Regions from separate parts of the Homo sapiens genome. Here region 2 is linked to region 1. Evidence: fine-mapped expression QTL. A gene starts in region 1. The other region holds a variant in brackets. All regions are shown on one strand. Distances are between the middles of the regions.

The links.
Region 2: its variant is fine-mapped to the expression of NFRKB in whole blood (TOPMed, PIP above 0.99).

What each region holds. Positions count from the first base shown.
Region 1 is chr11:129,893,510-129,898,721 of GRCh38, reverse strand. NFRKB (nuclear factor related to kappaB binding protein) reads left to right here and starts at 3,144. Exons shown (of 27, transcript NM_001143835.2): 1 at 3,144-3,226; 2 at 4,284-4,363. RefSeq lists a silencer at 2,988-3,427.
Region 2 is chr11:129,796,016-129,801,245 of GRCh38, reverse strand. The region is part of intron 1 of LOC124902793 (a long non-coding RNA gene); the gene reads left to right. Among named protein-coding and RNA genes, the nearest start is that of TMEM45B, 17 kb to the left of the region's middle. The variant G/T (reference allele first, on the strand shown) is at 1,976.

The sequences.
Region 1 (5,212 bases):
GCAATAACAAACAATGTAAGGAGAGAGATGGAAATCCTAAGAATGAGCTAAAATGCTAGAGATAAAAAATGAAGAGTAGGCTGGGCACGGCAGCTCATGCCTGTAAACCCAGCACTTTGGGAGGCTGAAGTGGGTGGATCATTTGAGGTCAGGAGTTCAAGACCAGCCTGGCCAACACGGTGTAACCCTGCTTCTACTAAAAATACAAAAATTAGCCAGGCGTGGTGGTGGGTGCCTGTAATCCCAGCTACTCAGGAGGCTGAAGTGGGAGAATCGCTTGAACCTGGGTGGTGGAGGTTGCAGAGAGCTGAGATTGCGCCTCTGCACTCCAGCCTGGGTCACAGTGCAAGACTCCACCTCAAAAAAAAAAAAAAAAAAAAAAAAAACATGAAGAGTAGCTGTGAGAGGCTAAATGGTAGACTAGACACATCTTAGGAAAGAATTGCTGAGCTTAAGGATATCTCAATAGAAACCTCTATAACTGAAAGACAAACAATATCCAAAAACTGTGAGATGATGAAAAAAAGGTATAACTATGCCTCATGGGAATACTAGCAGAAGACAGAGAAAGGAACAGAAGAAATATTTGAAGCAATAATGATTGATTATTTCCCCAAATCAATATGGAAGATGAAACCACAGATCCGGGAAGCTCAGAGGACACACAGGATAAATGCAAAAAAATCCTTCAAAACCAAAAAACAAATGAACAAAAAATGACTTTTCTTCAGAAACTGTGCACACAAGGAGCGAGTGGAATGAAATGTTTAAGGTGTTGAGAGAAAAAAGCAGTGTCTAACCTAGAATGCTGTAGCCCATGAAATTATCCCCCAAAAGCAAAGGGGATTTGTTGCCAGTAGACCTGCCTTGGAGAGAATGTTAAGTTTTTCAGAGAGAAGAAAAATGATAAAAGTCAGAACCTCAGATCTATATAAAGAAAGAACATCATTATTACCTTTAATAATGAAGGTAAAGGAAAAGTCTTACTTATTCTTTGTTGTTTTATTTTTCTTTTTACTTTTTTGAGACAGGGTTTCACTCTGTTGCCCAGGCTGGAGTGCAGTGGTGCAATCACAGCTCACGGCAGCTTCGATCTCCCTGGCTCAAGCGATTCTCCCACCTCAGTCTCCTGAGTAGCTGGGACTACAGGCACGTGCCACCACACCTGGCTAATTTTTTGTATTTATTTTAGTAGAGATGGGGTTTCACCATATTGCCCAGGCTGGTCTCCAATTCCTGGGCTCAAGTGATCCACCCATCTCAGCCTCTCAAAGGGGAAGATCCTGGGCATTGGGACTGAGGTGTTTTTGATACGTTCATGCAAAGATGCCTGGAGTGGGTGGTTGGATTTCTGGGTTGTTTGATTCATAATTGCTTGATTCATAATTGCCAAAACCTGGAAACAATGAAGATATCTTTCAGTAAGCGAATAGATAAAACTGTGATATATCGACACAATGGAATATTATTCAGCACTAAAAAGAAATAGGAGCTATCAAGCCATGAAAAGACATGGAGGAAACTTCAATGCCTGTTACTACGGGAAGGAAGCCAATCTGAAACGGCTACATACTATGTAATTCCAACTAGATGACACTCTGGAAAAAGGCAAAACTATGGAGACAAAAAGATCAGCGGTTGCCAGGGGTAGAGGAGAGGGAGAGATGAATATGCAGAGCACAGATGATTTTTAAGACAGTGAAATTACTCTGCATTATACTGTGATGGTGGGTAATGATGTATCAATGTAGGTTCATCAGTTCTTTTGTTTGAGATGGAGTCTCGCTCTGTCTCGCTCTGTCGACAGGCTGGAGTGCAATGGCTCAATCTCGGCTCACTGCAACCTCCGCCTCCCCGGTTCAAGCAATTCTCCTGCCTCAGCTCCCGAGTAGCTGGGACTACAGGTGCCCGCCACCACGACCGGCGAATTTTTGTATTTTTAGTAGAGACGCGGTTTCACCATGTTGGCCAGGATGGTCTCGATCTCCTGATCTCGGGATCCGCCCGCCTCGGCCTCCCAAAGTGTTGGGATTACAGGCGTGAGCCACCAGGCCGGGCCGGGTTCATCAGTTCTAAGAAATGTACCACTCTGGTAGAGGATGTTGATAAAGGGAAGGCGATGCATGTGGGGAGGTGGGGCGGGGAGTATTTGGAAAATATCTTTCTGCTCAATTTTGTTAACTTTAAACCACTTTAAAAAAACAAAGTCTATCAAAAATTATAGTTTACATTGTTTTTACTCTTTTTCTCTTTCTGGTCTTGTCACAATCTCAAGGTAAGGGAAATATCGGTGACAACTATAGAGTGATATTCCACTGCCATTTATACTCGATAGTTTCTAATTCAAGAGCCTCTCAACAGTGTAACAGGAACTTAGAGCATATGTGGAGCCAGTAGAGGAACAGAGATCGGGTTGTTTGGAAACTACTCTCTTCCAGGAAGGGAAGAACATTAGCTCGGCCGGCCGGCTTCTCTGGTCCCATCCACACACAGAACTGAGGATGGTCTCTGCGCCACTGCTGGGAGTACCTGGAATAAGTAGTGTGAAGCCGTACTAAGCAAAACCCAGTGAATAACAGGAAAGGGGCCTTCATATCTAAGAAGAGGAAAATGATGGAGTTTAACTTTAAAATGTGATCCTTCGATGTGTTTACATTCTTTCTGGACATCGAGGGCCCGGGGACGGGAAGGAGGAATGAAGGAACTCGGAAGCACAGGCTGAGGTCGCGTTCTACTCATGTCCTCAACTGTAAAATGGGCACTAATAGTGCATAGCTCACAGGGCTGCAGCACAAAGACGGTGGGTAGAAAGTGCTTAGCATAGGGCCTGGGGCAGGGTATGCTCTCTGCAAACGTCAGCTAATAGACGTGCCTTCGCTCACGGGCTATGGAACTTTGATTCGCGGTCAGGCAAAGACAGGCACTGTCTGGGGCCTCTGGAAGCTCCTAAATCAGGTGAGACGCGCAAGCAGGCTGGAACCTGCATCCCCAGGCCCAGCCGCGCGCAGGCACCCTCGCCGACCCTCCGCTCTCCCGAGCCGCTCCAGGACCCGCCCGCTGTGGCCCCGCCCCGGCACCCTCCAGGCCCCGCCCCGCGCTGCCCCGCCCCTTCCGCCGCGCAGGCCCAGAGCGTGCGCGCACCCAGACTCCTTGCGGGAGCGAGTGCGTCTGGGAGCCCGCGGCCGGAGAAGGGCTGCGGGTTAGGGGGCCGGCGCCCGCGGTTCAGGTGAGGGCGGGCAAGGGGCGGCGAAAGGGTTGAAGTGTCTCCTGGGAGTGGAGGGAGCGGGAGCGGGCGGCTGGGTCCGCGAGGTCGCTGCCCGTGTGGGCGTGGGGAGCGGGAGCGGGGCGTGGGGAGCGGTGCGACGCGTGAGGCTGGGGGTTAGGGTTAGGCACGGCGTGGGGGAGGGGCGGGGCCGAGCCGTGCAGTTCTGAGGATTGGACCCGGGCCTTGGGCCAGCCGGGCTGGCACCGGAGGGGAATTTGCTGCAGAGTTGAGGGCTTTGGAGCCGGCGGTTGCTCTGGAAGGACCCGAGGGTTTAGCTTCTGCGTTGGGGAGGGTCCAGCGGGGAAAGTTAGACCAGGTGCTGAAAGCCAGTGATGAGAGGCCGAGAGGCCTTCGTGGTCTAGTGAAGAGGTTCAGAACGCCCGAAGATCTGGAAATCCTTGGCTTCCGGGGTCCAACTCCCTGGCAGCTGCCTGGTTTTGGTATTTTGAGATTCTGTTCAGAATAGTGGCAGTGCAAAGGTTGTCAGTGGACTAGATTAACTTTAGCTAGACACGCACCGTCACTGAAGAAACTTGTGAGCAAGTTGTATAGAGACCTCCTAAGAGGCAGGTAGGACACTGACTTTGCAGTTGATAGTCTGTTCTATGCCAGTTCTGTTAAGAAGGTTTTATTCTGAGCATCAGGTTGCTTCTGCAATTTTTTTTTGGTGCTATTTTGAAGTTTTGTTAAACTCACATGCTATGTGCTGTCTCACCCGCTTCACTTATTTAGGCATAGGCATGATGAGGATGTCATTTCACCATGTGCTGAAGGGTGATGAGGGGGCACAGTTGCTTGGGGACCACCCACGTGACTTGACTCAACGCTTAAGTTTCTGCTATATCTTTACATGGATCTGAAATCTCTTCAAGGGAGCTTGAAATAATTTAGTGGAACATGCTTCATTTTACATATAGTTATTCTAGAACTGTTCTTTATCATTGGAGAATTTTGGAAAAGAAAAGTACCTGTATTACGTAATTCACACTGTCACTCATCTAGAGATTATTCATTGCAGGATTCCAGAATTGGAAATAACGGGAGGGAGGACCTGGTCCAGCTTCCCTTCCTCAAATAAGGAAATTGACACCTGGCGTGGTAAGATTTGTGGAATGTGGTGTTTGTGGAATGTGGAATATGGAATTCTGGTGTTTTGACTGTTAACATCCTTTTTTCTTTTCATTTTAGTATGCTTTTTAGCCCACTTTGTAGGAATAGGAGCTGGAAAGGATGGATTTAGTAAATGTTGGTAGAGTGATTGAGTTTAAGCTCCCTGTGGTCCTGTTAGCATTGTGCAGTCCTGTGCTATCAACTTGACCCCTAATCCCAGCCATCAGTCTGAAAATGTTGTGGTATGTAGTTTTCTGAAGGTGATCAGCAGTGTTCTGTTATTACACGAAGGAGAAAAGTAGCATTAATTTACATGATTATACGGATCAAATGGACCAACTAAAGGCAGATTGGCCATTGACTTTACTGGTGGTTATGGTCAGGTGTGTGGAACCTCAGGAATTTATATGGACTAATAAAGTCATATCAGTAAGGTTCGTTTTTATTATTTAAATGTTGCGAGGTTATACAAGAGGTATTGTGTGTAGCATTAAGCACATGGGTTTGCAGGCAGGTAGACCTGAGTTTCAGTACTGCCTCTGGGGTTGGGCAAGTTACTGACCTACTCTGATTTTCAGTTTTAATTCCGATGTAATAACCCATGACCTTACTTTGCACAGTTGTAGGAATTAAATGAGATATGTGAAAGGCCTGGCTTTTAATAGGCCCTCATAAAGTGACTGTTAGCATTTGCATTTTACTAGTGTATGTTGATTTTCAGCAAATTTTCTTTTGTGAAAGAACAACAAACAATATTCTTTCTCTTTTTCCTTTCCTTTTTTTTTTTTTTTGAGACAGGGTCTCTGTTGCCCAGGCTGGAGTGCAGTAGCGTGATCA
Region 2 (5,230 bases), 97 kb after region 1:
TTGCTACTTGTAATTGGCCTGTTCAGAGTTCTATTTCTTCCTGATTTAACCTAGGAGGGTGGTATATTTCCAGGAGTTTATCCATCTCCACTAGATTTTCTAGTTTGTGTGTGTAAAGGTGTTCATAGTAGCCTTAAATGGTCTTTCATATTTCTGTGGTATCAGTTGTAATATCTCTCATTTTATTTCTAATTGAGCTTGTTTGGATTTTTTCTCTCTTATTTTCTTGGTTAATCTTGCTCATGTTCTAGCAGTTTTGTTTCTCTTTTCAAAGAACCAGCTTTTTGTTCCATTTATTTTTTTTAGTTTAAATTTCATTTAGTTCTCCCATCTTTGTTATTTCTTTTCTTCTGCTGAGTTTTTTTTTGTTTGTTCTTGTTTCTCTAGTTCTTTGAAGTGTGACCTTAGATTGTCTATTTGCATTCTTTCATCCTTTTTGATGTAGGTGTTTAATGCTCTGAACTTTTCTCTTAGCAACACTTTTGCTGTATCCCAGAGGTTTTGAAAAGTTGTGTCACTATTATTCAGCTCAAATAATTTTTAAATTTCCATCTTGATTTTACTGTTGACCCAAAGATAATTCAAGAGCAGATTATTTAATTTACATGTATTTTTTATACTTTTGAGGGTTCTTTTTGGAGTTTTCAGTTTTATTCCACTGTGGTCTGAGAGGATACTTGATATAATTTTGATTTTTAAAAACTTACTGAGACTTGTTTTGTGACCTATTATATGGTCTATCTTGGAGAATGTTCCATGTGCTGAAGAAAAGAATGTATATTCTGCAGTTGTTGGATAGAATGTTCTGTAAATATCTGTTAAACTATACCTTGGTGCAAATGGACTTAAGTCCATTGTTTCTTTGTTGACTTTTGGTCTTGACGACCTGTCTAGTGTTGTCAGTGGAGTACTGAAGTCCCCCACTATTATTGTGTTGCTGTCTGTCTTGTTTTTTAGGTCTAGTAGTAATTGTTTTATAAATTTGGGAGCTCCAGTGTTAGATGCATATATAGTTAGGATTGTGGTATTTTCCTGTTGGACAAGGCCTTTTATCATTATATAATGTCCTTCTTTGTCTTTTTAAACTGTTGTTACTTTAAAGTCTGTTTTGTCTGATACAAGAATAGCTACTCCTGCTCCCTTTTGGATTCCATTGATGTAAAACGTCTTTTTCCATCCCTTTACCTTAAGTTTATGTGAGTTTTTATGTGTTAGGTGAGTCTCTTGAAGGCAGCAGATAGTTGGTTGGTGTATTTTTATCCATTCTGCCATTCTGTATCTTCTAAGTGGAGCATTTGGGCCATTTACATTCAATGTTAGTATTGAGATGTGAGGTACTGATGTTCTATTCATCGTATTAGTTGTTGCCTTAATACCTTGTTTTTTTCCCCACTGTATTATTGTTTTATAGGCCCTGTGAGATTTATGATTTAAGGAGGTTCTATTAATATTTTGGTGTATTTTGAGCTTTTGTTTTAAGATTTAGAGCTCATTTAAGCATTTCTTGTAGTGCTGGTTTAGTGGTGACAAATTCTGTCAGCATTTGTTTGTCTGAAAAAAGACTTTATCTTTCCTTCATTTATGAAGCTTAGTTTTACTGAATACAAAATTCTTGGCTGAAAATTATTTTGTTTCAGGAGGCTAAAGATGGGTCCCCAGTACCTTCTGGCTTATCAGGTTTCTGCTGAGAAGTCTGAAAAGTTTTCCTACACAGGCTACCTAATACTTTTGCCTCACAGCTCGTAAGATCCTTTCCTTAACATTCTTGACTTTAGACAACCTGATGATTATGTGCTTAGGTGATGATCTTTTTGTGATGAATTTCCCAGGTGTTCCTTGAGCTTCTTGTATTTGGATGCCTAGATCTCTAGCAAGACCAGGGAAGTTTTCTCAATTATTCCCTCAAACAAGTTTTCCAGATTTTTAGATTTCACTTCTTCCTCAGGAACATCAGTTATTCTTAGGTTTAGCTGTT[G/T]GGAGGGTTTGTTCATTTTTAACTTCTTTTTTTCTTTGTCTTCGTCTGATTGGGTTAATTCAGAAGCCTTGTCTTTGAGGTCTGAAGTTCTTTCTTCTACTTGCTCTAGTCTATTGTTGACCTTTCCAATGCATTTTGTGTTTCTTTAAGTGTATCTTTCATTTCCAGAAGTGATTTTTTTCATTGTGACATCATTTCTCTGGAGAATTTTTCATTCATATCCTGTATTGCTTTTTAAATTTCTTTAAGTTGGTTTTCACCTTTCTCTGGCATTTCCTTGAGTAGCTTAATAATCACCCTTCTGAGTTCTTTATCTGGCAATTCAGAGATTTCTTCTTGGCTTGCATCCATTGCTGGGGAGCTGGTGTGATCATTGGGGGTATTATAGAGCCCTGTTTTGTCATATTACCAGAATTGCTTTTCTGTTCTTTTCTCATTTGGGTAGACTATTTCAGTGAAGAAATCTGAAACTCAAGGCCTGCTGTTCAGATTCTCTTATCCCATGGTGTGATCCTTAGATGTGGTGCTCTTCCCTTTCCCCTAGGACTGGGGCTTCCTAAGAGCTGGACTATAGTGATTCTTACTGCTCTTCTAGGCCTAGCCACCCAGTGGAGCTACCAGGCTATGTGCTGGTGCTGGGGAATGTCTGCAGAGTTCTGTGATGTGGTCTTTCTTCAGGTCTCCCATCCTTGGATCGCAGCACCTTCTCTGGTGGAGGTGGCAGGGGAGTGAGGTAGACTCTATGAAAGTCCTTGGTTGTAGATATGTTTAGTGTGCTGGCTTTCTGTAATGCTGGTTACACTAGTGGTAAAGTTGTCACATGAACACACACAGGACCTTTGGTTAGCCAGGATGTTTCAGGAAGTGGAATTAGGTGTTGTCTTTTCCTTCCTGGGATCAGGGTTATTCTGTCATGAGTTACTGTGGTGGCCTGAGTTGGTTGGCCTCTAGCCAGGAGATGGTGCTTTCAAGAGAGCACCAGCTGCAGTAGTCGTAGGGGGCTCTAAGCTTGCCCTAAGATGGTCAGGGTAAGTATTTTGGATACTCAGGTGATTGGCAGGGCCATAAAGCTCCCAAGAGTTTCTGAGTTTTGTGTTCAACTACCAGGGCAAGTAGGAAAATACCATCAGGTTGGGGCAGAGTTAAGAGGGTCTAGGCTCAGATTCTCCTTGGGTGGGGCTTGCTGCAGCCACTGTGAGTGATGGAGGATAGTTCTCAGGCCAATGGGGTTATGTTCCCAAGAGGATTTTGGCTACCTCCACTGTATCATATAGTTTGCCAGGGTAGTAGGAGATAGCTGGTAGCAAGAGGCCTGACCCAGCTCCCACACCATTGGTCAGGCCAGCCTCTCTTCTGCAGTGGACCATTCAGACCTTGCCCCAGGCTGTGAGCTTACCCCACTGAGAAAGCAAGCACGGCTTTCAGACCTCGCCTCTCTCCATCTGCCTACTTCATTGGCAGCACCTTGTATCCACAACACCTCCCACTCATCACCTGGACTCCACTCAAGAAAATTTGTGCCCAGTTGAAACCACTACCAATTTCACTTGGGAGGTTTCTTCACCCTGTGGCCCTTCCCCAATTCCACTGGCTGCCTTCCTTGAGGGCCTCTGTAAGATATACTCAGGGATGGCTTCCCTGGGGTTGAGCTGGAGACTTGGAGTACATCCAAGGCACTTCCCAATGCTACTTCTACTTTTCTACTTTGTGTGAATCCCTAAATCCATTTAATCTCTAGGTAAGGTTAAATTCTTCTCCTGTGATCTGGATTTTCGGATTCCCCAGTGGGGATGTGTATTCAGAGGTAAGTTTTCCCTTTCTCACACTTTGGGAACTCACAGTTTTTTTGCCTGTTTCATGAAATTTGCATTGGCGTGCTGCTTCTTTCAAAGGCTCTGTGAATTTTTTCGCTTTTCCTGGTATGTTCCTGCCATGGTTCTTAGAGCAAAAGATCATGGTGTGAGTCTCCACATGCTGTTCTGTCCATCCATGTGGGAGCTGCACATTAGCTCTGTCTCCTAGCTTCCATTTTCCCTGATTTTAATTTTTTTTTTTAAATAGAGATGAGGTCTCCCTATGTTGCCCAGGATGGTCTCAAACTCCTGAACTGAATTGATCCTTCTGCCTTGGCCTCCCTAAGTGCTGGCATTATAGGTGTGAGCCACTGCACCTGGGTGACAAACCAGTTTTGAAAAAGTAAGTCTGACTGTTTAGGTTCGTTTTACAGGTCAAGTTAATCTTCAATCAAGTAGTTAAAAGGTAAATTACTAATAATCAATTATAGAATAATACAATAATACCAGTTAATTATTACCAAGTTGTTTTAGTATAATAGTGGGACAGATTAGTGGGTTTCTTTTTATAATCTTTTTATTCATTTACACCGAGGGAATATAGCATCTTTCATCCAAAGAACTGAACATTTAATCCAAAGAACTGAACATTTTAAAACATGAGCATTTAAAAAGCGATTATATTTTGAAAACCTGGAGTCTTGCTGTTAAATCTCTTTGATTCCAGATACACAATTTTCTGGAAGTCATTATATTAGGGACAATGAAAGAGGCTCAGAAAGAATTCTGATTTCCTTTCACAATACAGTCATTTCCCAAAACCTAGTGCTGGGCTTGCAAAGCAAAAACACACAAATCTTACAAAGCAAAAACACACAGATTTTCCTTGCAGTGACCAATATTGCAAGAAAAATTAGTGTTCTTAAATGAATGTAATTATATGTGGAACTTAGCAAAGGCAAGGATGGCATTTTAATTCAATGGGAAGTGGTTTATGTGTTGCTAGTATAATTGACTATTATTTTGGAAGATCTTATCATAGAGTTTCTCATTATCTAATCTCTCCTTGGCCATCCTGGTGCTAGCCATCCAGAATAAGTATTATTATTTTTTCCAGCTAATATGGTTTGGCTCTGTGTCCCCAGCCAAATCTCATGTTGAACTGTAATCCTCAGTCTTGGGGGAGGGACCTGGTGGGAGGTGATTGGCTCATGAGGCAGATTTCCCACTGCTGTTCCCATGATCATGAGTGAGTTCCCACGAAATCTGGTTGTTTAAAAGTGTGCAGCACTTCTCCCTTTGCTCTCTCTCTCCTGCCGCAATGCGAAGACATGCTCATTTATCCTCCACCCTTCTGCCATGATTGTAAGCTTCCTGAGGCCTCCCGAACCATGCCTCCTGTATAGCCTGTGGAACTGTGAGTCTATTAAAACTCTTTTCTTTATAAATTACCTAGTCTGAG